Linked DNA regions of Homo sapiens. The protein of the gene in region 3 interacts with the protein of the main gene of each other region in a pairwise test. Each region holds a gene or a part of one and is shown on either strand. Other genes may lie near its edges.

Region 1 (7,199 bases), on a different chromosome or scaffold from region 3:
TACAGGCACATTTTTGTATTTTTAGTAGAGACAGGGTTTCACTATGTTGGCCAGGCTGGTCCCGAACTCTTGGCCTCAGGTGATCCACCCACCTCGGCCTCCCAAAGTGCTAGGATTACAAGCACGAGCCACCACACCCAGCCTGAATACAGTATTTTTAAAAATCAAAATTAACAGAAATAATCCACAATGAATAAAATACAAACATTTTCAATGAAGACAGGATCTGTAACTGTGCCCTGTGGAGTCATATTGGAGCAAAAGGAAAATCAATGATACTGACCCTGCAGGCTACTTGCATTAGCTCACTGTCCTCCTAACTTCTGGGCTAAACAACCCAGCTAAAGCCCACTAGAGGGGGGCTGCTCCCCAACCTTTGCTAGCCCCCTCCTGCTGGCAACTGCTGATCCTGGGACCAGTGATGGGCAGGTCCACCTTTGCCCTCAAATGGTTCTGAACTAGGTCATTGCAGTCCTTTAAATAAATTAACCAAAACCATAATAATAACAACAGAAACATTTATTAAGAGCTAAGCGTTTTACAAATATTAATTCACTTAATACTCACATCAATCTTATAAAGTAAGTGCTCTTGTTATTTCCTTTTACAGGTGACCAAACTGAGGCATGGGGGTTTAATAAGCTTACCCAAAACTACACAGCAAGGAGGAGGCTGTGTCGGGAATCAAACTCAGTCACTGTGGCCCCCAAGTCCATGCTCATAACCACCAGGTAAAAAATGTGCCTCCTATTCTAATTTCTGTCTGACAGTGGGCCCAGTCATGGTTTCAATACAGCTCAGCAGAGCAATGCAGCAAATCCAGGTGGCAACACTAAAATACTCAGAAAAGACCAACCAAGCAACCAAAGCATAACATCAGCAATAGCACAACCAATGTGAATCATGAGAACCCTCTGTCTTTATTAAATTTGGGGGAAGAAATCAAGGTCACGAAATCAAGTGACTGGTGATGGGGCCTAGAAATGAGTGTCTCCCCCCACCCCCGGTTTCCGCTCTGGCAGGCGGGTGTTAGCGGATGGTGTACTTGTCCCACTTCTTCTCGGGGTCATAGGCCTCCCAGCGGCTGGCGGGGAAGATGTGCTTGTTCTTCTCGTACCAGCTGCGCAGCACCACCTTGCCCGCGTGCGACTCGTCCTTCTCCATGGTGGCGTCGCTGAGCAGGCGCACGTCATCGTGCACATCGAAGCTGAAGAGCGGCCCGCTCTTGCCCCTCGCCCTGGCGATGATGAAGTCGTAGAAGGTGTGGTAGTGCGGCAGGATGAGGTCCTCCTTGATGAACATGAGCTGCTCCACGCCGGCGGAGCGCAGCTCCAGGAAGTCCTTGCGCAGCCCCTGCAGCGCCTTCTTCAGGAACTGCTGCACCGTGTTGCCCTTGCGCACCCGCACCGTGCGCCGGTGGCCCGAGCCGTCCCAGTAGCTGAAGGTGACCTCCATCTCCTCGTCCTTCACTTTCTCGCGCTGCGCCTCCCACTCTTGGCGCAGCTCCTCTCGGAGCCGGTTCTCCTCCTCCTCGCGGTCGCGGTCTGGCAGGAAGCTGGTGTCCACGTCGGGGTTCTTGCCCAGGTTTCCGGCGCGCCTGGCCTCGGCCGCGTCGGCCTGGTCATCGAGGTCGTCTAGTGCAAAGGACAGGCAGGAGATCTTACGCTTGCGCTCGCGCCGCTGCTCCTGCTCCCGCTGCCGCTCCTGCTGCAGCCGCTGCTCCTCCAGGTGCTGGCGCTTGGCCAGCTGCCGCTCGCGCTCCCTGACCAGGGCCTCCTGCCGGGCCTTCATGTCGTTCAGGGTCACCAGGCCCACCGTGCTGGACTTCAGCTCGGCCTCCACGGCGTCGTAATGCGCCGAGAACCTCTTGTCCACCTGCGACTTGAGGATGGTCTCCTCGGCGATGCGCTGCTTCAGCACCTCCATCTGCTCCCGCTGCCTTTCGCGCTTCTTGAGGAGGTGCATGGCACGGCCTGCCTCGCGCATGGTGCCCTTGTACTGCGCCATGGCCCGCGCCTACCCGATGGGCTCTGCAGCAAAGAGGAAAAACGCGGCAGGTAGAGGGGGGCCCACGCAACGGCGGGGAATGCTCAGCTCTGCGCCTCCTCACAGGGCTTTCGGCAGTGATGGAAGCGTTCAGGGGCTGGGCCGACCTGCTAGGGTAACCACCAACCTGACAGTGTCACCAGGCACCAATTTCCAGCATTTTATTTGACCTCAATAAATGCAAATGCGAACGGCCCCACGTAACGGGTGGCTGCCATGCCTGAGCGCAGCGCTGAATTTGGGGAGCTGCATACAGAGAGGGTTGGGCTACTGAGCGGACCCTTACCTGCCCAAGCACCCTGTCGAGCGGAGACACGCGGGAGCTGACCTCCACGAGAACCACCCACGAGCAGAGGCCCACTCGCCCCGGGCTCTCGCGACAGCCGTGGACACAGGAAGTGGAGGCGGTGCGCCCCCTGGCGGGGAGGCGGGCCCTGAGGAGAGTGCCAGGCTCCTGGTAGGGCGGCTGCGGAAACAGGAAGTGGAGGTGGATCGCCCCCTGGCGGGGAGGCGGGCCCTGGGAAGAGCTCCGGGCTCCTGGTAGGGGCGGTGCTCCTGTGGGGCGGGCCAGCGCGGGGAGGATCCTGGAGGAGGCGCTTCTGGCCCTGCCCAGCCGTGGCTGGCCGGGGCTCCTGTTTTCACGCTGTGGGCAGGGCGGGCCCCCACCTGCTGTGCGTGCGTGCTGAGCCTTCTCGTGCCCAACTGTAAACACGCAGAAGCAATGTGGGCGCAGCGCAAGCTGCTGTGGCCACCCAGAGAGCCTTGCAACACGGCCCTGCTCTCCAACCCTCCTCCTCCCGCCTCTGATGCTACCCCGCTGTGGCGTCTCGTGAACATTACCTGCGCACCACTGCCTGTAATTCTTTCTTATGGCCCCAACACAACCATTCTTTGATAATAGAACCCTACTCGCCCCCCAGTTTCGTGACAAAACCTGCACTCAGCTTGTTTGACCTCTTCTATACAGCAGTTTCCCCCGGGTTCTAAGCTCTAATAACCATGGGACACTGAGTTAAAGTGTAGCAGTGTCTTTACTGTGAGCCTCTAACATGCCAGTTTCCACTGTAACTCTCCAAGAGCAGGGCAGACCAGTTCATGTTTCGTGACCGTTTCTCCCCTGCAGGAGATCTGGTAACACTCGCCGAAACCAGTGCTTCCTGGGACCTAGTTTGGAAAAGCTGGTTGTGAAATACATACTGCGGTTCAGCCTCCTCCCGCCTAAGAGCAACAATGCCTGTGAGCATAACCTTACCAAGAAGCGTGAATCATATGATAATTACATATGGCACCCACATATCCAGAGGAGAACAGCACGGTGTGAGCCCTCATCAAATTGTCCAAGCCAGAAACCTAGGCCTTTTCCTGGAATGACGTTCCTCCACAGGTAATCAATTACAGAAGAGCCTTTCACACTTTCCTTTTTCTCCCATTCCCCACCACTTGCCTTAATCTAGGAAATTAGCATTTTTTTTAATCTAAAGCCTTCTCATTGTTGCCCCATCACCAGAATACAAGAATATCTTATTTTATTGAGCTCTGGGATACTGTGTGTTTTGTTTTTGTTTTTACAAATTGAAGATTTGTGGCAACACAGCGTCAAGCGCCTACTGGCTCCATTTTTCCAGCAGCATGTGCTCACTTCGTGTTCCTGTGTCACATTTTGGTAATTCTTGCAATATTTCAGACTTTTTCATTGTGATATCTGCTATGGTGATCTGTGATCATCGTTCTGTGAGGTTATTGTAATTGTTTGGGGGCACTCCGAAGTGTGCAGTAGAAGACAAAGACGTTTATTGATTTAACTGATAAATGTTATGTATGTTCTGACTGCTCCACTGACTGGCTGTTCCTTCATCTCTCTTCCTGTCCCTAGGCTTCCCTAGTGCCTGAGACACAGCAATATTGAAATTAGGCCAATTAATAACCCTACAATGGCCTCTAAGTGTTCAAGTGAAAAGAAGTGTCACACGTCTCTCACTTTAAATCAAAGGCTAGAAATGATTCAGCTCAGTGAGGAAAGTATGTCAAAAGCCAGGATAGGCCAAAAGCTAGGCCTCTTTTGCCAAACAGTTAGCTAAGTTGTGAATGCAAAGGAAAAAAATCTTGAATGAAACTGAAAGCGCTTTCCTGGTAAACATATGAATGATAAGAAAGCAAAACAGCCTTATTGCTTATATGGAGAAAGTTCTAGTGGTCTGGATAGAAGATCAAACCAGCCACGACATTCCCTTAAACCAAAGCCTAATCCAGGGCAAGGCCCTAAGTCTCTTCAATTCTGTGAAGCTGAGAGAGGTGAGGAAGCTTCAGAAGAAAAGTCTGAAGGTAGCAGAGGTTGGTTCATGAGGCTGAGGAAGGAAGTCACCTCTATAACATAAAGTGCAAGGTGAAGCAGCAAGTGTGATGGAGAAGCTGCAGCAGGTTATCCAGAAGATCTAGCTAAGAGCACTGATGACGGAGGCTACCCTAAACAATACATTTTCAATGTAGACAAAATAGCCTTCTATTGGAAGAAGATGCCATTTAGGACTTTTATATCTAGAGAGGAGAAGTCAATGCCTGGCTTCATGGCTTCAAAGGACAGGTTGACTCTCTTGCTAGGGGCTAGTGTAGCTGGAGACTTTCAGTTGAAGCCAATGCTCACTTACCATTCTGAAAATCTTAGTGCCCTTAAAAATTATGCTAAATCTACTGTGCCTGTGCTCTGTAAATGGAACAACAAAACCTGGAGGACAGCACATCTGTTTACAGCATGGTTTACTGAATATTTTTAAGCCCAGTGTTGAGACTTACTGCTCTGATTATTCCTTTCAAGATATTATTACTCATTAACAATGCACTTGGTCACCTAAGAGCTTGATGGAGATGCTCAAGGAGATTAAAGTTGATTTCATGCTTGCTAACACAACATCCATTCTGCAACCCATAGATCAAGGAGTAATTTTGACTTTTAAGTCTTATTATTTAAGAAATACATTTCCAAAGGTTATAGCTGCTGTATGTAATGATTTCTCTGATGGATCTGGGCAAAGTAAATTGAAATTTTTCTGGAAGGCATTCACCACTGTAGGTGCCATGAAGGACATTCACAGTTTTTGGGAGGAGGTAAAATATCAACATTAACAGAAGTTTGGAAGAAGTTGATTCAAACAGCATTACATGTTACAAAGAAATCTTTCGTGAAAGGTAGAATCAATCAATGTGACAAACTCAATATTGATTTAAGAAACTGCCACAGGCCCAGCCTTTGGCAACCACCACCCTGATCAGTCAGCAACCATCAACACTGAGGCAAGACCCTCCACCAGCAAATAGAGCACAGCTCACTGAATGCTCAGAGGATCATTAGCATTATTTAGCAATTAAGTATTTTTAATGAAATTATGCACATTATTTTCTTAGACAAAATGCTACTGCACACTTACTAGACTATAGTATAGTATAAACATAACTTTTATATGCACTAGAAAATTTAAAAATTTGTGTGACTGTCTTTGTGGTGGTCTGGAACTGAACCCACAGTATCTCCGAGGTATGCCTGTATTCTTGTTCTTGTCTAACTTCTATACAATATCCTCAGAGATCTTCATAAAAAATGAATCTGATAACATTACTCTCCTACTTGAAAAACTCCAACTTCCCTTGTAACAGCCACATCAGAATCTCTTTGTTTGTCCTCTAAGGTCTCTAATAGGTGGACCCCTGCAGCATTCACCCAGCTTTTTCACTGCGCCTGAATAGAAGATGCCCTTTCAGGCCAGGCGCAGTGGCTCACACCTGTAATCCCAGCACTTTGGGAGGCCGAGGCGGGTGGATCACGAGGTCAAGAGATCGAGACCATCCTGGCCAACATGGTGAAACCCCGTCTCTAATAAAAATAAAAATAAAAAAAATTAGCTGGGTGTGGTGGTGCATGCCTTGTAGTCCCAGCTGCTCGGGAGGCTGAGGCAGAAGAATTGCTTCAACCCAGGAGATGGAGGTTGCAGTGAGCCAAGATCGCACCACTGCACTCCAGCCTGGTGACCCAGAAAGACTTCATCTAAAAAAAAAGTTGCCCTTTCATAACTGTTACCTCTGGACGTACTCTTTCTAGAAAGTCCTGCCCTTCGCTGTGCTATCCCTGAAGATCAGCACAAATGTCATCTCCAAGAGGAAGCCTGGAGCACCCACCATCACCATCACCACCCACAGATGGACAAAATTACCAATAGTCTCCTCTCTCAGGTTTCCCATATAATTACCTTTATTACACTTAACATAAATAAGATAGCCTCTCCACCTCTTTTTTTCAGTTAAATGATCCAACCAACTAAACTTTAATTCAATCGACTATCGTTTGGCCACAAATACTATATTCACTCTTTCTCTAATCGAATCAGAACTTGAATGTCAATATCATCCCTAAACCTTATCATCCACCCTCCCATTATCCAGCATCCACCTCCTGAACTCAGTCACGGCCTCCAAATACTATAGCCAGCTCCCAGAATTAAAAGGTTGAGCCTCAAATTCTCAGAAAAGTTTAACAAGAAAAACAACTAGAAAGAAGGAGATTTATCCTAAAAGTCTGATATACTGTTCTGTAGAATTTTCCCCTAAGTTCCAAGATGATAACTTCCTCTTTCAGCCTTAATTCTCAGCGAAAATACCCACAAAACTAAAAGCTACTGCTTTAAGCTCTTAAATTTTATCAGCAAAATGAGGCTGAGGACCCGAGCCCACGCAAATGGTGAAACTTTAAGAAAGAAGAATAAATAGAACAAAAAAGAATGATTGTTCTAGTTATTCTTCCCTGATTGAGACATTATGGTTTGTTTTTCCAATAGGTTTTGTCATAAAGGAGGAAATAGGCATATTACAGAAAAGTTTGAAAAGAAATGTAAATAAATAAAAAGTTCACTCAACATGAACACATAAGTAACATAACTATTAATGTTTGCAAGTTCCCTTCCAATATTTTATGTGCACATAGATCTGTATATATTTAGCAATTTTAATCAAACTTTGCATCCCATTTGATGACTTTTTTTCCATTTAAGTTTTTTTTTCTGTTTTTGTTTTTGAGACGGAGTCTGGCTCTGTCTTCCAGGCTGGAGTAGTGCAATGGTGCGATCTCGGCCCACTGCAACCTCCGCCGGCTGGGTTCAAGTGATTCT
Region 2 (6,407 bases), on a different chromosome or scaffold from region 3:
GCCAGACTCCGTCTCAAAAAAAAAAAAAAAAAATAACCATAACATACAAAGTGATAACTGCTGAGGAACCTACCTCCTACTCTTATCCCCAGAATTATCTATGTAAAGAATCCATTTTTACCTATGCTTCTTCCATCACTTAAGATTATGAGGTAGATAATAAATTTCATTGCATTGCTATTTAGTTATAAATTCAGCTAGTCATATAAACAGTAACATACTCATCTAAAGGAACCTAATGCCAGAGAGAAGATAATAGTTATGAAATGGAGACAATAATAACTTAACTCTTTTGTAGGCAATGGGGTTTCAAATGCAATATGAAGTACATTAATTCCAAGAGTTGTACCACTAGAGGTGCGATGGCAATGTAAACAGTCTAAACAATGTACACTATCTTCATCTACCAATTCCATGTATAAAATGTTCCTAGGGAACTAGTAAGACTCTTGTGAGATTTGTCATTACCATTGCTTGATAGCTGAAAATTGGAAACAGTGCCAGTTAATAAGAAATGGGTATATCCATATGATAGAATATTGTATTTATTAATGTGGAGCTCTTTGTACCAAATATAAGTTTAAAAATCAGGTTATCAAAGAGTATGTATGATACAACGCTTTTTTAATAAAATAAAATACATTTACATACATAGTCACTATGCCACAAGATGTTAAGAATAGTTTTCTCTAGATAGTGGCCTTACAGGCAATTTTTATTTGGGGTGTGTGTGTTTTACTCAATAAATATTTATTACTTTTGTATTCAGAAAAAACATTAAGAGAATCATAGGAAAGTTTAACTAAAAAAGAAAATCTTTAAAATATCATTAAATTATTTAACATATCCTTCAAGTGAGATTGTTTCCTTTTGCTAAGCTATATTTTGTAATCTCCACAACAAACATGAAATAGTAAAGTTGACATAAAAAAACTTGCACAGTAATAGGAAGCAGTGTTTACATTTTGCCACCCCTTACATTTTGAAGAGGGAACTCATATTCTTAACCAAGACTGTTTCTTATCATTATTCAAAGGTACCTACTTTTCCTAAATATTGCAATTAAATTATTTGTACTTAAGAAAGCAGTGTATTGTAAAGGAACCAGCCAGACCTGGGTTAAATTCCTAATTTTGCCATTTAACTTTGACATAACCACCTAAACCCAATCAAAAAACGAAAAGTATAGGTACTCAACTGAGCCAGTGAACAGAATATTTAGTCCAGGTACACACCAGGTAGTTCCAATTTAATACTCAGCAAAGTACATATCCCCTCTATTTACATTTTGCTCATTTCCTTTTGATATTCCAAAAGTTCTTACTTGGGTTACTCTTGACAATTAGAACCTTTCTTGCCCATTTGGGGAACAATTATTCTTCTAAGGCTATAATTTGGCATTAAGCCAGGGGATTCATGGTTTTTACACCACGAGTATTGAGAATGTTGCTATTTCTGGCAACGTCTTTATGAAAAGATCTTTCCCACTTTTGAAAATAGTTACGCTTCTCTCAAGAAACTGGGTTACCTCAGACACAATAAATTGTGTAATTAATGTGATGGTTCCTTCTTTGTGTTAATTGCTAGGATGTTCACACACATCTGTGATCTCTCTAGAAAGTATAGCATAGCATGTACTTTAAGTAGTTAACTCCCTCTTGGCTTCACTTTTTTTTTTCTGTTATATGATTCATCCTATTATGTCTACTTCTGAAAGCAGAGATAATACTGGCCCTCATTTAAAGGGGTTTTAAGGATTAAATATCAGTGTGTCTACTATTCTGCCTGGACCACATAGAGGGCTCAAAAATAGTAATTTCACATGACAGGTTCTAGACTTTCAAATAATACAGTTTGATGTACTCTTGCTTATGTAACCACCTGATAAAATTCAACATGTTCCAAATTCCCTTTGAAATAATGGAAAATGACAAAAATAAACAGCCAAATATCAAAACTAGAATGAAAAATGAAGTTACCTCAAATAGTGAAGGGCAAAAGAAACTGGATCTAAGCCTGGAGTTAAATTGAGACCTCGTCTGTCTGAACTGATACATGACTAACACAGCTTACCAACTGGCTTTTTCTTCATCTAAAAATAGGCCATTAAACAAATATACTTTAGGATTTATAAATGACAAATCAAGAAATTATCTTATATTGTTTTAATATATGAATTTATAAATTATTTTATAAATTTAATATAATTTAAAAAATTTTAAAGTAGTTATCCTAAAACAAGACCTTGAAATGTATCAGTGCTGTTCGAAGGATCTAGCAATGAAGGTGGAGAAGTTAAATAAAAGATAATTGACAACAACAGTTTGGTGTACATTAAGTAATAAAAGCAAGTTATATGAGTAACAGCCCTTGTCTTCTTAGTGGCTAAGGTAAGGGGAAGATGTCATTGTCATTGTGTTGTTGCTGATTATAGCTTATTTTAAATTTGTGTTCACACTCTTGAAAATCTACCCAAATTACACAGGAAAATCTCACAGTTCAGCAGTGCAAAAATTTTATTTCTGTTTCCCCTCCCCACCACTTTACAAGATGTAAAATTTTACTTAATCCACCGTATTCTCTTTTTTTAATTATCTGTTATCAGTCATGTCAAATGTGAGGAAAAAAACACTAATCAATTAAAAATATCCGTCCCTCTTCCCCACTGCTACAGCAAATTTAGGATAAATCTACAGCATTCACTTACTTTAGCTGGTTCTGATACTGAGGAATACTTTTTTATTTGAGAATCAACACCTAAAGACTTGGCTAATTGTACAGCATTTGAATCATCACTGATAAGTGTTCCAAGAGCCACAAGAAGTCTAAAAGTGGCTTCTAGGTCTTGTACTACTTCCAAGATTGTGCTAATTAGTGACAAACATTGGGCTTTCCCTTCAATGTTATGGTCTTTATGAAAACAAACAGAATAGTTCAGGGCCAATGTAGCCAGAGCAATGTGAATGTTCTTATTGCTCCCTGATTTCAGTTCTATTGCATGGGACATCAGTGATTCCCTCTGGGACATCATGAGTTTTTGTCCTGCCTGGCCAACAAAACAATTGCAAAAAGTCCTGAGAGCAAGCAGCTGGTTTGCTGGCTTTCCTTTAGGGTTCAGAAGATTGATAAGATGACTGCTGAACTGAGCCCCTTCCTTTTCATTGCAGAAGTTCTCATTCACACTGGGGTGTTTAATTGACAACCGAAGAATGTCAAGTGCAGGAAAGACAATATCTATTAAAAAAAAAAAGTCATTAATGCTTATGAAAATAAAGAAAATTTCTTTTGACTATCGACTTTGAAGGATTTTATTTTCCCACTGCAAAACTAACCATTTTAGAAAATGTGAAAAATCATGTGTCTGCTTTAAAAAAAATGCATATATTTCTGAAACTTTTGTTAATTTTTCATATTTATATAAACTAGATTTATTGCTGTAAGATCATATTCGCTTTAAAAATAAGGTAACTCTCTCAAACAGCCTACACACTGTGAGTATTCAAAAATGAATGGAAAGAATGGGGTGCAGACTTTGCTTTTAAAAAATTCTGTAAGACCGAACAATTAAACAGGGAAAGTTCTTTTTTTTTTTTTTTTTTTTTTTGAGACAGTTTCACTCCTGTTGCCCAGGCTGGATTGCAATGGCATGATCTCGGCTCACTGCAACCTCCACCTCCCGGGTTCAAGCAATTCTCCTGTCTCAGCCTCCCAAGTAGCTGGAATTACAGGTGCACGTCACCACGCCCAGCTAATTTTTGTATTGTTAGTAGAGACGAGGTTTCATCATATTGGTCAGGCTGGTCTCAAACTCCTGACTTCAGGTGATCTACCCAAGTTGGTCTCCCAAAGTGCTGGGATTACAGGCATGAGCCACCGTGCCCAGCCGGAAAGTTCTTAAGAGAAGAATTCCAGTTAACAAGTGATAGGATGCTTATAGGTTGGTGGGAGCTTTATAATCAAGGGCCTGGGTAGATGCCATCTGAATGAATGCACAAAATAATCTTAGCATCACTAAAGGTGAGGAAATCCAACATTATGTGCTCCGTAATGTAAAAGTAGTATGCATCATCATTTATAAAGGATTTCACCTAAAAAAAAAACACCTACTGAACCAGAATCTAATTTTGCCACTAGCAATAAATACAGAGATGGAGGAACACATCAGCAAAATCCATAATATGGGACATTTTATTGAAAAAAAAAAAAAAAAGACTTTTTCTCCAATAAATCAGTGGCATAAAAAAAAATAACAGGCAAGGACTCTTTGAGAATTAAAAAAGACTTAACTGACATAATTGGAAAAAAAAAAACTTACAGTAAATATTTGTAGCCTAGGGTTAACAGGTCACTAAGAGTATCTTGGATGCCTGGCCAGGAATCCACAAATGCTCTGAAACAGTAAACAAACAGGTGCATGCCCGGGCGCGGTGGCTCACGCCTGTAATCCCAGGCTGAGGCGGGAGGATCACGAGGTCAGGAGATTGAGACCATCCTGGCTAACGTGGTGAAACCCCGTCTCTACTAAAAATACAAAAAATTAGCCGGGCATGGTGGCGGGTGCCTATAGTCCCAGCTACTAAGGAGGCTGAGGCAGGAGAACGGCGTGAACCCGGGAGGCGGAGCTTGCAGTGAGCTTGCAGTGAGCCGAGATCACGCCACTGCACTCCAGCCTGGGCGACAGAGCAAGACTCCATTTCAAAAACAAAAACAAAACAAAACAAAAAAACAAAGAAAACAAACAACAACAACAAAAAAACAAACTGGTGCATATATGGGGATCATATATTACCTTCAGATTCTCAAAAGGCATGTAACGGAAACAAGATCATCAATTCCAGTAGTGTAGTGAACCCTTTTCGTGAAGATTTTCCATAGTGATTTAGAACTACCGAAGTTAACTTTCATTTAATCCACAAATACCAGTAATATTGATAGAAATGAAGATAAAACTTCTTGCTTTCTGGTTACATTTTTGAAGAGTGTTTATTTACCTTCAGGACAGTTAATAGCTTTCCACAAAATCTGAAGTTGCTGGACTGTGGGTTTTTCTGAAGAACTATTACATATTAGAGACAGTATCTTCTCAAGAAGTATCAAGTCATCCTCAGTTAACTTCTTCTCTTCAGGTGCAGTTCCATTAAGTTCCTTCAGTTTACCTAGAACCCAAAACCAAACTTTCAAAATTCTCTAACTGTAATTGGCCAGATAATATATAAATGCCAAGACTTTCAATAAAAGTACTCTAGTGTACACCATGGGGAGTTAAGACTTTACTCAGCAATTATCAAACACCATAAAGTAAGGATAAGGCTTATGAGCTTTGTCTTTTTTTTTTTTTTTTTTGAGATGGAGTCCTGCTCAGTCGCCCAGGCTGGAGTGCAGTGGCGCCATCTTGGCTCACTGCAAGCTCGCCCCCCAGGTTCAAGCAATTCTCCTGCCTCAGCCTCCTGAGTAGCTGGGACTATAGGCGCCTGCCACCATGCCTGGCTAATTTTTTGTGTTTTTAGTAGAGACGGGGTTTCACCACATTAGCCAGGATGGTCTCAATCTCCTGACCTCGTGGTCCACCCTCCTTAGCCTCCCGAAGTGCTGTGATTACAGGTGTGAGCCACCACGCCTGGCCTTATTATTATTATTTTGAGATGGAGTCTCACTCTGTTGCCCAGGCTGGAGTGCAGTGGCATGATCTCGGCTCACTGCAACCTCCGCCATCAGGATTTTCAAGCGATTCTCCTGCCTCAGCCTCCCGAGTAGCTGGAACTACCAGCATGCACCACCACACCAGCTAATTTTTGTATTTTTAGTAGAGATGGGGTTTCACCATGTTGGCCAGGCTGACCAACATGGTGAAAAACTCCTGACCTCAAGTGACCCACCTGCCTTGAACTCCCAAAGTGCTGGCATTACAGGCATGAGCCACCACGTCCGGCCTCCATTTTGGATGACTTTCAAAGCAGTATCATGTGTAATATATATTCAAGTGTAAGTCAATAACCTAGTTTCTCCATGAGAAAATTTATAACAACTTTTTAGCCAATTTATGTCAAATTCTACAGCTGTCAATGAAATAGTCAAAGAGTTAAATGCCTACTGATAACATTTAATTTATGACTTAGTTCCATATGCATATTTGATGTCACATTATTTTAAAAATTTATTTAATGGACATACTGCCCTTTCTTCCCATGTTCTCATTTCATGAAACAATTTCCTTCAAATCCTTCGCATGTATCTTTAGTATCAGTATCCTTTGTATCATGACTTTGAGTTACTGTGTTTCTTTAAAAATCTTTATCTCAAGAATAAAAAAGTCCAAATTCCGATAATAAGGAAAATTATCCAAATTTACACCATTGAAATCAATTATAAATGGAAACTAGGGCCTGTTTCACTAATCTCAGGTATTA
Region 3 (7,000 bases):
TAAACCAATAATTTTTCTCCGTAATGACAGTTCTGAGAAGAGTCTAAAATGAAATTTTTTCTCTCTTGCAGACTTCAGTACATTAGAATTTAGTAATGTATAAAATATAGTAATATTATTTCCTGTCACCATGAATCAACAAGACATAACCATAGCCTTTTGACAGTCTGGTTAAATATTTAACACTGTGATTACTATAACTTTCAGGTTCTCTCTGATAAATAATTGTAAGGAAAATAAAGACAATTCTGATATTTCAAGGATTTGTTTTTTTAACTAGAGCCTAAACTCAAAAATTCAAAGAACTATTCTCCAGTAAAGGATGGAAAAAATCTGAATTGTATTGTGCCCCAGTATAGCTCAGAGACCTAACAGTTATGAGTGGGGGCTGAGGTACTGTTTGTAGGGGTATTGCTAATCTAGTGAAGGAGAATGATTCTAAAGATTATTTTTGCCAAATTCTTTATTCTTGCATGGAAATAATCATTGTTGCTTTGATATGCCATCTCTTTATTGCCCTTATACAGGGCCAACATGAAAGTAAAGAGTGGTTATGAGTTTTTAAGGGAGAATTTCTCTGTAAACCATTCTTGACATTGGGTTTATACTATTAGGAATGCTATTGTTTCTATATCCAGACTCCCTCACTCTTTTGCTTTTATACCAAATGTTAGATTTAGAGCTATTATACAGCATCTTGATCTTTCATTTTTTTATTCCAGTGACATTCCGTAATTAACATGAATATAAAGATGCAAAAAGAACAAACATTTTATCTCCAGATATTATAGTGCAAGGGAAGGTGCTTTCACTTATGGTAACATTTCAACATGGCTTCATATTAGAAACTGCAGTGATGCTTCAGATACAGAAATTAAACTTGGCAGTTCTCTGCAGCAGTGGTTCTCAAACCTTAGCATGCAATCAGGACTACATGGGGTGCTTGTTAAAACACAGAATTCCAAACCCATAGAGTTTCTGCTTCAGGAGGCCTGAGCTAGAGCCCAATAATCACATTGAGAACCACTATTCTAGCACTGGTTCACCCTTTTCTTCTGACATAGTTTTCTAAGTGTATAGAGTAATTTATAGTTCATAACCTTGATGCTCTGATACGGGATCATAAGTACAAATTCAACAAATATTTTCTTGATACATCTTTTTTATCACATGAAAGTTTGTTAAACCAAGAGTATTGTTGAGAGAGAAGTTAAAAGCAGCAGTTTAATTAAGTGAGCAGCAAAATGCTGAAGATGGGAATAATGTGCAAAAGAATACCTTATCACTTTATGTTGCCTCTCTTGGCTCAGAGACCTTGAATGTGAGCCTGCTTGTTATTGTCTAAAACTGAACAGTGTATCTGGATAAAATACATGAAGCAGCATATTCCCAGTGCTTTGTGTTTTCTGAAAATGCTTACTGTCAGTATGTTTTATTGAGTAAATTAATCCTTTTTTTCTACAGGTGATGGGCCCCAGTGTAGAGATTATGTCATAAGTCTTGGAGTTGTGAAACCTTTACTTTCCTTCATAAGTCCATCTATTCCTATAACATTCTTAAGAAATGTTACTTGGGTTATGGTCAACTTATGTCGCCACAAAGACCCACCACCACCAATGGAAACCATTCAGGAGGTAAACACTTTTAAAAAAAAATTAAAAGAGATACCATTATATATATATTTTTTATTTGTGTATGTTTTTAAATCTACATATTTCTCTCCTCAGATTCTTCCAGCCCTTTGTGTTTTAATTCATCACACAGATGTAAATGTGAGTAAATGTGTCCTATTATATATTTATGTATGTATGTATGTATTTCTAGGGCTTCCCCTGTGACATAGGGGAGAAATATTATACTAACACATTGTGTCAGCATACTATCAGATTTTCCCATTTCAAGAGTTATTTTATATTAGATTAGTTATTTTATAATATTTTAATATTTACTCTATGTTTATCTATATCACAAAATATAATACCAGTTAAGAAATCAAGCATAACTGTTATTTTGGTGTGGACAATATTGTATGTATGTGTATATATTAGTGTTATAAAAACTGACATTAAAAGTTTTTAAAGTTGCCAGATAGTGGTGATTTCTCTTACTAAGATCATGTCTTTAATTGTTCTTGTGCTTTTTACAGAAGGTCATTTTGACAGTTTGGCCAATGAAAGCACACACAAATAGTGCTATTTTTGTTTTTTGAAAGATGAAAAAGGAAAATGTTTGTGCATGGATTTGTATTCATATACACATACCAAACCATGGACATCAATTGCCCTTTAATTCCATTTTTATTCTATTTCTCAGTTACAGTGACTGGCAGTGGCTTCATTTATCAAGATAACTTGATTATCCAAACAACAGGAAAAAAAAATCAGTGCAGGCAAGATTTTAAACATAGCAAATATATTTTGCTTATTTTTACTAACACAGATGGCAGAGGAAAAAGCAACTCAGGGAGTATGAATGAGGTGGAAAACTGCCCTGAGTGCTTGTAAAAGCCAGACCAGCCTTTGGTGTGTTAGAGAAACCAGGAATATAATGGGTAAGGGAAAACACATGAATGAAATGTTTAGCAACAATCAGGAACTCATGTGGTTCTTTAAAAACAGTTTGGCATGGTGACCAGTGTTGGACAAGCTGCTTCATTTCTTTACAATTTAAAGGCCTATGCCTTTTGGCCAGAATTTAATTTGTATGGAACAAATTAAAATTAGAATTTTACTGTATCAAACAGTGACATAATATATAAAATTCATTAGATGAACATGATCTCTGTGGTAGAGTTTTTGTTTGTTTTTAGCCCCAGATAGTTTAGGATCTTAAAAAATGTGTAAGTAATTTTTGGTTTTGGCTCCTTAATAGCCAAGTTCTTTGATTAAATTGTGAATTTCAATATTTTGCTTTGAAAGATTTACAAGAGGCCAGGTGTGGTGGCTTATGCCTATTGTCCCAGCACTTTAGGAGGCTGAGGCAGGAGGATCACTTGAGTGCAGGAGTTCGAGACCAGCCTGGGCAACATGACGAAACCCTGTCTCTATGAAAAATACCAAAAAATTAGCCAGGCATAGTGATGTGCACCTGTAGTCTCAGCTACTCAGTGGCTGAGGCAGGAGGATCTCCTGAGCTGGGGAGGTCAAGGCTGCAGTGAACTGTGATCATGTCACTGCACTGCAGCCTGAGTGACAGAGCAAGACCCTGTCTCAAAAATAAATAAATAAATAAATAAATAAAACGATTGGCAAGAAAGATTTAACTTCAAAGTTTATACCTCTACTAGAAAACAAGACATCTTGGTTGACTTTATTTAGAGATAGATTGTGTTCTTTCCACCTATTTACTCCAATCTAGATGAGACTGTGACTCCATTTTCTTGCCTTTGATGTATCTTGAAGAATTTCTCAAGCCTGTTTACATTGTTCTTTTTAGTAACATGATTAACAAATAATATTGCTTACTAAATAATGTGTTAGAAGTTTGATTTGAATTATGATTTTGATCTGAGCATATTAGTGACATGTCCTTTAAAAACATGTATCTAGCTTTTATATACAGTTATGAGCAAGTAACTTGAAATTTTTGGCCTATGTCAACAAATTTTAGCATATGTTAATATTCCAGAAAAGAAACTCAGTTACATTTGCAAATTGAAATTTAGGTTTTTTCACATATATTGATACCATTTTTTTATGTGAATTCTTTTTTTTTTCTTTTTGAGACAGAGTCTCGCACTGTTTCCCAGGCTGGAGTGCAGTGGCATGATCTCCACTCACTGCAACCTCTGCCTCCTGGGTTCCAGCGATTCTCCTGCCTCAGCCTCCCGAGTAGCTGGGTTTACAGATGCCCGCCACCACGCCTGGCTAATTTTTTTGCATTTTTTAGTGGAGACAGGGTTTCACTATGTTGGCCAGGCTGGTCTTGAACTCTTGACCTCGTGATCCACCCACCTTGGCCCCCCAAAGTGCTGGGATTGCAGGCGTGAGCCACCACACCCAGCCTGTGCGAACTCTCATTTGATGTCTTCTTTTTACATTAGAAATATCCTTAGAGCTTTCTTGAATTTCCTAAGAAACAATGGCAAAGCATTATTTTCACCTTTTAGGAGTTTCGGGGTGTCTTTTTGGTTTTTTTTATCTTATTTTTTTATTTTCTCTTGGGTGTCCTAAGCATAACATTAGTTTACAGTTTTACGATTTTTTTAAAGTCAGGGTCATAAAAACAAGAAAAAATAAACAATGCCGAATTGTTTCTGTTTTTCATAGAGACGGGGTTTCACCGTGTTGCCCAGGCTGGTCTGTAACTCCTGGGCTCAAGCAGTCCACCTGCCTTGGTCTCCCAAAGTGCTGGGGTTACAGGCGTGAGCCACTACTCCCTGCCTAGTTTATTGTTTTAAAGGTTTTACACTTCTCCAGCTTGTCTTGACACAGAGTTCATATTCTGGAAAGGCTTTGGAAGTAGTTTTAGGCACAATTATTATTCCCATGTCTTTGTCAATAATTTGTGTATTTATTTGCAGCAGTTACAGTTGTTTGTCATACTGCCCTTTGGTCATAACTTCTAATTAGGACCTAACGTACTAGGAAAGATCAAACACATGGCCTGTTGTACTTAAAGATGTAATCGTTAAAAAAAATGGTAGGCTACTTAGTAGAAGTTGATTACACAGGCTTTTTTTTTTTTTTCATAAGTAGCAGCTGTAGTGAAGTACGTATTTTTTGTTTTAATTACAGGTCTCACAGATTGACCTATGATTATTTTAATGTCTTGATCTGCAGCTGTAGGGGACTTCCACTATTTAAGAAGTTGCTGGCCGGGCGCAGTGGCTTACGCCTGTAATCCCAGCACTTTGGGAGGCCGAGGCGGGCGGATCATGAGGTCAGGAGATCGAGACCATCTTGGCTAACACGGTGAAACCCCGTCTCTACTGAAAAATGCCAAAACTTAGCCAGGCGTTGCGGCATGCGCCTGTAGTCCCAGCTACTCGGGAGGCTGAGGCAGGAGAATGGCATGAACCCGGGAGGCGGAGCTTGCAGTGAACCGAGATCGCGCTGCTGCACTCCAGCCTGGGCGACAGAGCGAGACTCCGTCTCAAAAAAAAAAAAAAGTTGTCTCCAGTTCTGTAAGGCAAAACAAACTGGTTGGAAAAGATTAAAGTATTTTATACTACAATATGAATACTTGGGTTATTGGCTTTAGGCATATCTACATGGTACTTACAATACTAGAGAACTCCTTGAATATATTCATCTAGCCCAGATGTTTTGAACAACTGTGCATGTTGGATACATGTAGTCTTTCCAGCTTTATACATGAGCCACAATGTTTTTGGACCTGTTATCCCTCAGCCTTTGGGAAAGAGAATGTCTTTTTCTCCTGTTTTATGAGCTGTGTAGTGTGCGTGTGTATCTTAGTGAACTAAGATTGGATACTAATCTGGGATCAGAATCCTGAATATGGCTAAAAGATGTACGTCTTAGTACAGACATTTATAGATGATGATGTTTAATACCGTAGCGATCAGATTCCAATGAATTAAACTGAGAGAAGAAAAGAAGGAAGAAGGTAGTTGAACAATTTTAGAATGGTTGTTTGGTCAAGAATTACTAAAATGAGAAAATATTTAAAAGTTGTTTGAATTTTTATTTTATTCATTAGATACTGGTAGACACAGTCTGGGCCCTCTCTTACCTTACTGATGCTGGCAATGAACAAATACAGATGGTAATAGACTCTGGAATAGTTCCTCATTTGGTTCCTCTGCTCAGCCACCAGGAAGTTAAAGTTCAGGTAAGTTTGTTCTTAGTTAAATTATAAGTATTTCTTACCACTAATTGCTTTAAGCATGGCATTCAAAGATGGACAATTTCAGTAGTTTAAAGTATATTCTTAGCATAACAACAAATCTGTGATGGAAAGGGGAAAATAAATAATAAGATGCCATTGTAGATTACTAATTTCTTTTTTTAAGATGGGGTCTCACTGTCACCCAGGCTGGAGTGAGGTGGCGTGATCTCAGCTCACTACAACCTCCACTTCCTAGGTTCAAGGAACATTCTCCCACCTCAGCCTCTTGAGTGGTTGGGATCACAGGCACACACCATCATGTGTAGCTAATTTTTTTCTATTTTTGATACAGTCAGGGTTTTGCCATGTTGGCCAGGCTGCTCTTGAACTCCTGGCCTCAAATGATCCTTCCACCCCAGCCTCCCAAAGTGCTGAGATTACAGGTGTGAACCACCATGCCTGGCCGGATTACTGATTTTTAATGTAGACCAGGGAAGTTCATTATAGCAACATGCATGGCATCTGAAACAAGTATTGACAGACACTTATTTTTTCCTACTCCTCTTCTTTTTGTTCTTCCTCTTTCACTTCCCTACTTCTTTTTTTTTCTTCCTTGCCAACCATCCTTATTTACTCACCTGGCAAGTTTAGTTAACTCTTATCTTCATTGGTGCTGAAATAAGGGTACTCTACTGAAATGTGCTGTTTAGGGACTTTCTAAATTGTTGCTTTTCACTTATTTAAATTTATTTTTTATTGTTTAAATTCTTTCACATAATATTTATCCCAAAGAATTTGCATTTAGAAAGAGCCAAAAACAGAGTGTGAGAAGTTCTCAGAGATATAAGCAGTAGCTGTTAAGCTACAGTTGTAATGGGGGAGACGCAGCAAGCTCCCTCTACCTTTCTGAGGTAAATAGTATATTTTAATCTGCTAATGGCTTAGAATCTGTAAAGTACAATAATCGCATAAGAGAAACCGTTAGTCTGTAGCCTAAGTCATTATGCCTGAACATCAAAATAAACTGTGTGGAGCTGTTTTTAATTTCTCCTGCTCAACCCCTGGAGATTTCTGTTTCAGAAAATATTTCTTAGAAACTTGAGCTTTAAAATGCTCTTCAGGTGATACTGATACATAGTCAGATTAGAGACCCTGTACCTTAAAATTAAAGCACTTTAAAGAAGGAACACTTAGCTAAATACAGAAAGAA
Region 4 (7,985 bases), on a different chromosome or scaffold from region 3:
GCTAGACTTCATCTCAAAAAAACAAACAAACAAAAAAACCAAAAAAAAGAAAACTAACGTGTTATATAAGTATACAATCATAGCTGTTTTTGTTTTTTTAATAGCAGTTTGAGGCCGGGTGCCAGGGCTCACGCCTGTAATCCCAGCACTTTGGGAGGCCAAGGTGGACCAACCACTTGAGGTCAGGGGTTCAAAACCAGCCTGGCCAACATGGTGAAACGCTGTCTCTACCAAAAATAGAAAAACTAGTCGGGCATGGTGGTGGGCGCCTATAATCTCAGCTACTTGGGAGGCTGAGGCAGGAGAATCGCTTGAACCCTGGAGGCAGAGGTTGCAGTGAGCAGAGATTGAGCCACTGCACTTCAGACGGGGTGAAAGAGCAAGAGGAAAAAAAAGAAAACAAAAAAACCCAGCAGCTTGTTAGAAGAGATATTATTTCCAAAGAGAGTAACAAGAAGTCCAGTGTTAAATGTTTTGTCTATAGTAAAAGAGAAAAAGCTGGAACCAGAACCTGAGTCTTGCTTCTCTGGTCAAGTCAAATACACTGCATTTTGTCTCAATCCTGTGAACTAATATTTGGTTTCATGAATGATTAAAGTTTTATCTGTTCTGCCACAAATTGGTGTTTAGAAGTTATTCTATCTCTATTGATCTAATTCCTCATTGGTAAATGGGGAAGGCATTTAGACAAAATGACTAAGGCTCTTTCAGCTTTAAAGTTCTATATTTCTAACATTTTCCATATTATCCCTACCACGAGGAGTCCGAATAGTTTCGTTTACTTAAATAAGGTAACTTTTCCTCTGAATATGCATTACTCCGAAATTTAAAATATGCCAAACAAATATCTCTGTTTTTGAGCTTCTATATAAGCAATACTCTGCCTTTTACACTGTTTTGTTGAGGCTTTTTGGTTCGTTCTTTAGAAAAAGAAATATCCCTCTAAAAACTACTTTGGACCTGCACTCCATAAATTATTTTAGTTGTGCACAAGGAAGAAATGTCTAAACACTTTAAGAAAGTCAGAATGAAAGAATAAAATGCTATCTAGTTCACTCAAGGCACAATAAAGAGTTGATAATACTTTGCCTGAAGTCTACTTTTTCTCAATTTTTATTATATGGGGGAAAGTAGATCTAATATCAGTTTAAGTTACTCTAAACGTATCTGCCTCTTATTGTCTAAACTCTGAAGTACGGAATTCAATCACTCCAAGGGACCAGATTTATGGACACCAAAAAAACATTTCTTGAAAAATTAAGTACATATAAATAAATATTCTTATTATCGTATCTAATCGAATGATACCAAATTGTATAGGTAATGGGAGATACATGGCTCCTTCCAAATGGTCCAACACAGTACTCTGGGACAGTGATTTCTACTTTAGCACACCTGCATTAATGTCTACTAAAAATGTTCTAGAAAAGTAAAGAATGGAATACTATTAGTATGTGGTTTTCCCAAATTTCAGTGGTAAATACCTTGTCGTTTTTGGAAACTTTAAAACTTGGCACAGTTCCATGTTTAATTTTTTAATTCCCCAGAAACAGACCCTTAAGGTAAACATTACTGGGCTTTACTTTTTAAGATTCTCTGACTACTTAGGTGGGATTGGTCTAACTTCTACTGCGACGCTACTGTGCTCCACAGACAGTATTACTAACAACAACCACTCCAGGATGCTTCTCTAACGTTAACTATGAGACAGTTCTCGTTCTCATGAGTCAGTAAGCTTTAATTCTACAGGTTTTGAGAGCAGTAAGTCTGTGCCAAGCTCTTCGTTGTTTCATTTTTAATGAAGGAAAACACGAAAAGCTATTTTCATTTTTATACTGAACTTCTTTTTGTGAAAGTAGATTAAGCTTTATATGCACACGTACACATACAAATGCATACATATAAATGTAAACGTATGTAACATGCACTCAGCACGGTCTGGAGGACCTAGGAACATAGAGGTTTAATAGACCATTTATCCTAACTTTACCCTCAAAGAACCAAAGTGATTTGAAAACCCTAAGTAAATTTGGAAGCATGAAAACTTTGCAATAACAGAAACAGCCATCTCCTATATTCTCTACTCTCTCCAAAAGACATGGTCTGGGCATTAGTAGTGTTCTTATCCCCAGGGTTGGATATGTTCTGTGGACAGATTAATGCTGGAGGCCCTTAAGTGGAATGGAGCAGGATGGGACGGGGGCGAGGGGGGCACCAGAGATGGATCTTCCAATCATCACCATAATCTTCCTTCAGGGAAACTCCGTAGTGGTTCAAAGCCCAAGACAGTCACACAAACCTGTATCTGAATTCCAGGCTCCAACCTTACGGAATGAACCTGGGCCAATGTCTCACCCTCTATGCCCGTTTTCTCGTCTACAAAATGAGGCAATAACAAGTATCTCACAGTGGAGGATTAAAGTAATGCCCGTCAAGTGCATAACATAGTGCTGAGAACTTAAGAGTTCAATAAGTTGTCATCTCCAGCACTGTTATTTGTGAGAAGTCACCTTTTCCTGTTCTTTCTCAAACCTACGAACTTGTAAGATCGAGAAATACGAACCAAAGATGAATAAACGGGGAAAACCAAAATCAAAACAAACAATTCTGAAAAACCTCTTCGTCCTCAGGAGCAGAGACAGAACTCGAAAGTAAAACCTCCACCTACTTGCTTCCTGCCGCAGTGGCTGGAAGAAAAAAACACTGACCCGTGTGCGCTGAGATAAACAAACTCGGTGGCGCCCCCCTCGGATCCGGGGCTGGGAGGGTGGCGGTGAGACCACTCCCGGCCGGAGGCTCTGACCCGGGCGGAATACGCCTGCAAAGCCGCCCGAGCCCCGGTGGCTCGTCCCCCTCGGCGCCCCCGCTCCCACCGGAGACGCCCAGGCCGACTCCCTCACCTCCACCAGCCGACAGCTCCCGGGAACAAAGTGTATAGAGAGCTCTTTCTCCCGCCCCACCATGCCCGCCGTCTTCACGCCGCAGCCTCAGCGGCCGCCACCTCCTCCAACCCAGGATCGACGCGGGCCTCAGCTCAGACGCCCTCGGCCCGCCTCCCCTAGGCCCAGAACGACCCCGCTCGCCGCTTCCGGCTTCCGCTGCCATAGCCGCGCCCGTTGATTGGCCACGCTCCGCCGACGCCCCAGAAAGAGGGCGGGTACGCGCGGTCTGCCCCCAGCCCACGCGCCGATGCTTAAAGCGACACACAAAAGAAAGGCCCTGACCTTAGGCAGTGAATTCAGGTTTTGTTTCGGAGATTTTATTTGAGTGCTTTTTATTCTACTTTTTTTCCTTTTTTTCTTGACTCGGGAAAAGATTGAAGTGGATCGCCTTGAGTTTCAAGTTTGCAGACTGCGCAGTGCATGAGGATCGACTGAGCAATATAAAAAGTGGAATAAAAAGCATTTTAAAGTCATGGGGGCGGGGGCGGAGGTGGGTAGAGCATAATGGACACATCTCTAGAGCTCTAGGTGGGGGTTTTGAAAGATTTAGAAAAAGACAAGGAATAAAAATAAAAGGGTTGGCGTCTGAGCCATTTGTCTTCCTGGGATGCTTAAAAAAAGAAAAAACCTGTGTGTGAGATATCAAAAATGTAAAACTATTTTTAACTAATTAAAAATAAAAAGTTGTAGGGGGAAGGAAGATGAACTACTTAGGTACCTCTTCAAAACGCAGATCCTTGGACTTTACCCATAATTACAGAACAAGAAACGAGCCCGGGGTCCGACTTCTTAATGGGTTTAACCAGAATCAAGCCCACTCTTTAAGAAACACCGCCTCGGGGATTGCAGGATTGGGCCACACGAGCCCAGCCTTGGTGAGCACCGAGAATTTAAGCAGCAGCGTGTAAGGCTGGGCGTTCTACCACCTTTTAAAAGTTAAGCAGCCCTAAGTGCTGATGCCGACTTATTTCCCTTCCAGTTAAAAACCGCAAAAAATCCTCAGCCAGGCTGGACGCCTGTGAAATTGATGCAGAAAGTAAACCCTGGCACAGGCCGTGTAGGATTTGCCAACTTTGCACCGAACAGTCCAAGGGTTCTTGTGTGCCCAGGATAGCAAGCTCTAAACGTCGTCCACAAACGTGACCACTGTCTGGATTTTCCTAGGGCCTTTCCCCGACTCCTAAACCTTTTTGGTTTATTTTCAAACTAAAGACTAAGCAGCCTTTTAAAGAAGTTTTCCACGTCAGAACACCATGACTTTCCTTCCTCCTCAACCCCCAACAAAAACTCATTTCCTTATTCGTGTAAACATAAAGTTTCTCTAGAACAGTAATCGAAGACAGCCTGAGGTTTCTTATGTTCCGATTTTTTTTTTTTTTAAACACAGGCTATTACTGTTCATTAGTTTGGCTTTATTTAGGGAATCCTTGAGGACTGCCCCAGCGCTAAACAAGCATAATCAGGGGACAACAAAGAAGAGGGCGGGAAGAGGGCCGGGGGAGCAGCCAAGATCATCTTACTACTTTTTCTCTTAACTGGGAATTCGGTTTAAAGTTTCTAGTCGCAACACGTGATGTAATCTTACCTTTCTATGGGAGAAAAGAAAATTAATTCTTCATTCTTCAACGTGAAGCAGGTTTAAGGGCAAGCATATGCAATTAGCATTCTGATTCTCAGAGCAGCCTAGTCTTGAGGAACAGAAAGAATTTAACTTGGCTGCTTTTGAAAATCTGACTTGATACTTTCCCCGTAAAAGTTGGGTACAGTTCTAGGGGCATATGTTTGGATATGGTTTTTAATCATTTTCTTTAATGATGGTAGGGTCTATGCGAATCAAACGCCATTCTTAACATAGACAATATACAACTTCGTGTGGTGGCTAAGTCTATACATTTAAAGAGAGCAGCCTGAAACTAAAAGTTATGTTAGCAGATTCAATTCATACAAAGACAAAGAACATCTGGAAAGGAACACACTACAGATAAAATCCTTATTTATGTAGAAACTTTATATACATAATTGCATTTAAAATGGTAAATGAAAGTGCAATTCTGTATTGTCAGCTAGTGAGACTTAGCTGAGCCCTTCATAACCTGGTTCTCCGGGTCAGTAACTAAAGTTGGCTTATTCTTCCATGTCCCGAGGTTATGTTTTAAGGAAATGAATGACACCCGTTTCTATTTTCTTTACACAACAATTCTGGTTTTAGCAGGCGTTCACTGGAATGCTTTTAAAGCATCTCTTACTCTAGAATGCTTCATTTCTTGAATTGCTAGTTCTTACCTGCTCCATGTCCTCTGGCATTTCAGGCATGACTCCAGAATTATTTCAGGAGAGCAGATACGGGATGGGTCTTAGCCTCTGCCTTCTCTTGCTGGGTCTTTGTTCGCTTCTGCCTGCAGAGAGCGCAGGCACGCCAAAACGTGAGGAGCAGCTTCACTTGACCTTTTAAATTAGCATTTTGATTCCAATCCCGGAATCTCGTGCAGTTCTCCACATGGCAGTAAGCTGGTAGCTGATTCCCCGTAGTAGTCTCGAAAATACCCAATGAGAAGTTTCATGTTTAATTGCCAGTCAAGCCTGGGTCTATTTGCAAAACTATTTGGTAGAACTAACTACTTAACAAAAACAAAAACAAAAACCCAACAACTTCCTGTCAAGATTCCTTGTAGTTTTCTTTTGCAAAAGAAGAGTGAGCCACACTTTTGGAAAGCACACAGATCATGCAGTTGATTCCTGTTCTAAAAGGCACAGTTTTCTATCATTTTATTTAGTTACACCTTATTGCAACAGATTATGTTTAGTAAAATTCTCCAGTGCTTTCCCTTCCCAGTGCTTTTAATTATTTCAAAGGAGAGTAAAAGGCAGTGGTGGTAACAGCACGCAAGAAGTAAAATGCAACGGGTCATTTCCATTAATACTATGCTGCCCTCTGAGAAAATGGTAGATGGAGTGAGCGGCCTTAAGTTTCACAAAGCATTAAGGACTTCTAGATAAGTGATTTCCAAACCTGCCTGCACCACAGAACCTAAGAAACGAAATCATTCTCTGGGAGCGAAGCCCAGTAATCTGTTTTCGAAGACTTTCAAGGGTCATGAACGTGCTCAGTGAGCTTTGCACCGCTATTCTGAATTATGGCTCTGTACCAATTTAAGAACATCAAAAATTGCCATTCAAATTGAACTAAAAAAATCATCTGACTTTTAATGTTACATTCATTTAGAGCACACAGCGCATGGTAAACTCTAAGAGGCATTCAGAGAAATCTATTAATATAAATTATGAGGAATTGTTGTGTGTGTGTTTGCATTTGTGAACAAATGTGAACCTGAAAAAGCCAGTCCTTCAAGATGGATCCCAAGTGGCTAACTGGGCATAATTTATTTATTTTTATTATTTCAAGACAGGGTCTCCCTCTGTCACCCACGTTGGAGAGCAGTGGTGCCATCACAGCTCACTGCAGCCTCGAACTCCTGGGCCCCACGTAATTCTACAGCCTCAGCCTCCCAAGCAGCTCCACAGATAAGGAGTGAATATTCGCCTTGGCCATTCCCGGATTCCTTAGCTCCAAGCACACATTCTTCTTAGACCACAGGGTATTCTCAGGGTATGCTTAAAGTTATTGCTGTCAGGTGCATCTGCCATACAACGCTATTTATTTATTATTATTATTATTATTTTTTTTTTTTTTTCTTTTTTGAGACGGAGTCTCGCTCTGTTGCCCAGGCCGGACTGCGGACTGCAGTGGCGCAATCTCGGCTCACTGCAAGCTCCGCTTCCCGGGTTCACGCCATTCTCCTGCCTCAGCTTCCCGAGTAGCTGGGACTACAGGCGCCCGCCGCCGCGCCCGGCTAATTTTTTGTATTTTTAGTAGAGACGGGGTTTCACCTTGTTAGCCAGGATGGTCTCGATCTCCTGACCTCATGATCCACCCGCCTCGGCCTCCCAAAGTGCTGGGATTACAGGCGTGAGCCACCGCGCCCGGCCCTTATTTATTATTTTTAAGACGGACTCTCGCTCTGCTGCCCAGGCTGGAATGTAGTGACATGATCTCGGCTCACTGCAACCTCCGCCTCCCGGGTTCAAGCAATTCTCCTTCCTCAGCCTCCTGAGTAGCTAGGATTACAGGTGTATGCCACCACACCCGGCTAATTTTTGTATTTTTAGTATAGACGGTGTTTCACCATGTTGGTCAGGCTGGTCTCGAACTCCTGACCTCAAGTGATCCGCCTGCCTCAGCCTACCAAGGTGCTGGGATTACAGGCATGAGCCACAGCGCCCAGTTCAGACAACACTTTAAAAAGGAAGATATAAGAATAGCCGATAAGTACATAAAAAGATGCTCAACATTAGAGAAGCAAATTAAAACCACATCAAGATACCATTACATACCTAACAGAATGGCCAAAGTTAAAGACTGAAAGCATCAAATGATAATATAAGGGAGGCAAATTTTACTTCCACCTTTTCAGGGTTTTCTGGCTAGACTTAAGAATTAAATTAAGGTAGATCAACATACAAGACTATTTTATACAAACTTAATGTGGCATGGGCCCTTCCAAAGGAAGTGAAGACCCAAAGATGGAGTTAGAGTTGCAATTAAATACCAAATTAGACAGAATACTAAATTGTGAAAAAGTAAATTTTTGAGGCTAGAAGATCAGTTATTTTAATAAGGTTGGTACAGAATTATCTTGGCATTAACTTCCTGTCTTTGGTGATAGGAATGTTACTTTACTTCTGGTACGGGAGGGCATCATTCATGTGAGAATTTCATCTGCTTTTAAGAAACAGAAGAAAGGTCACGGTGATCTTCTTGTGCCTGCTGTTTTTTAAGCATATTTAACTTAAAATAGTCAAAATGCCAGTGTGGCATATTTTGGAGTAGTATATTCTCAACTCCTTCACTAACAAGCATTTTGAATGACTAGAATGCTCTTTTATTGCTAGAGGGAGTATAAAATGATACAACCACTTTAGAAAACTGGCAGTTTTTATAAGGTTACATGTATGCCTCAGAGAAATAAGAACAATAAGAAAAAA

The links.
Region 1: the proteins of KPNA4 (region 3) and FAM50B interact in binary tests that used the Homo sapiens proteins (3 or more experiments, as listed by UniProt).
Region 2: the proteins of KPNA4 (region 3) and PLAA interact in binary tests that used the Homo sapiens proteins (3 or more experiments, as listed by UniProt).
Region 4: the proteins of KPNA4 (region 3) and MAT2B interact in binary tests that used the Homo sapiens proteins (3 or more experiments, as listed by UniProt).

The regions. Positions count from the first base shown.
Region 1 is NC_000006.12:3,844,620-3,851,818, reverse strand, and holds FAM50B (protein FAM50B), read right to left. Parts: upstream 2,447-7,199; 5' UTR 2,333-2,446; intron 2,031-2,332; 5' UTR 2,008-2,030; coding exon 1,030-2,007; 3' UTR 502-1,029; downstream 1-501.
Region 2 is NC_000009.12:26,902,843-26,909,249, forward strand, and holds the end of PLAA (phospholipase A-2-activating protein), read right to left. Parts: intron 5,157-6,407; coding exon 4,992-5,156; intron 3,235-4,991; coding exon 2,669-3,234; 3' UTR 530-2,668; downstream 1-529. UniProt on the Homo sapiens protein: Plays a role in protein ubiquitination, sorting and degradation through its association with VCP. Involved in ubiquitin-mediated membrane proteins trafficking to late endosomes in an ESCRT-dependent manner, and hence plays a role in synaptic vesicle recycling.
Region 3 is NC_000003.12:160,520,572-160,527,571, reverse strand, and holds part of KPNA4 (importin subunit alpha-3), read left to right. Parts: intron 1-1,464; coding exon 1,465-1,634; intron 1,635-1,727; coding exon 1,728-1,772; intron 1,773-5,661; coding exon 5,662-5,793; intron 5,794-7,000. UniProt on the Homo sapiens protein: Functions in nuclear protein import as an adapter protein for nuclear receptor KPNB1. Binds specifically and directly to substrates containing either a simple or bipartite NLS motif.
Region 4 is NC_000005.10:163,500,665-163,508,649, reverse strand, and holds the start of MAT2B (methionine adenosyltransferase 2 subunit beta), read right to left. Parts: upstream 3,032-7,985; 5' UTR 2,964-3,031; coding exon 2,901-2,963; intron 1-2,900.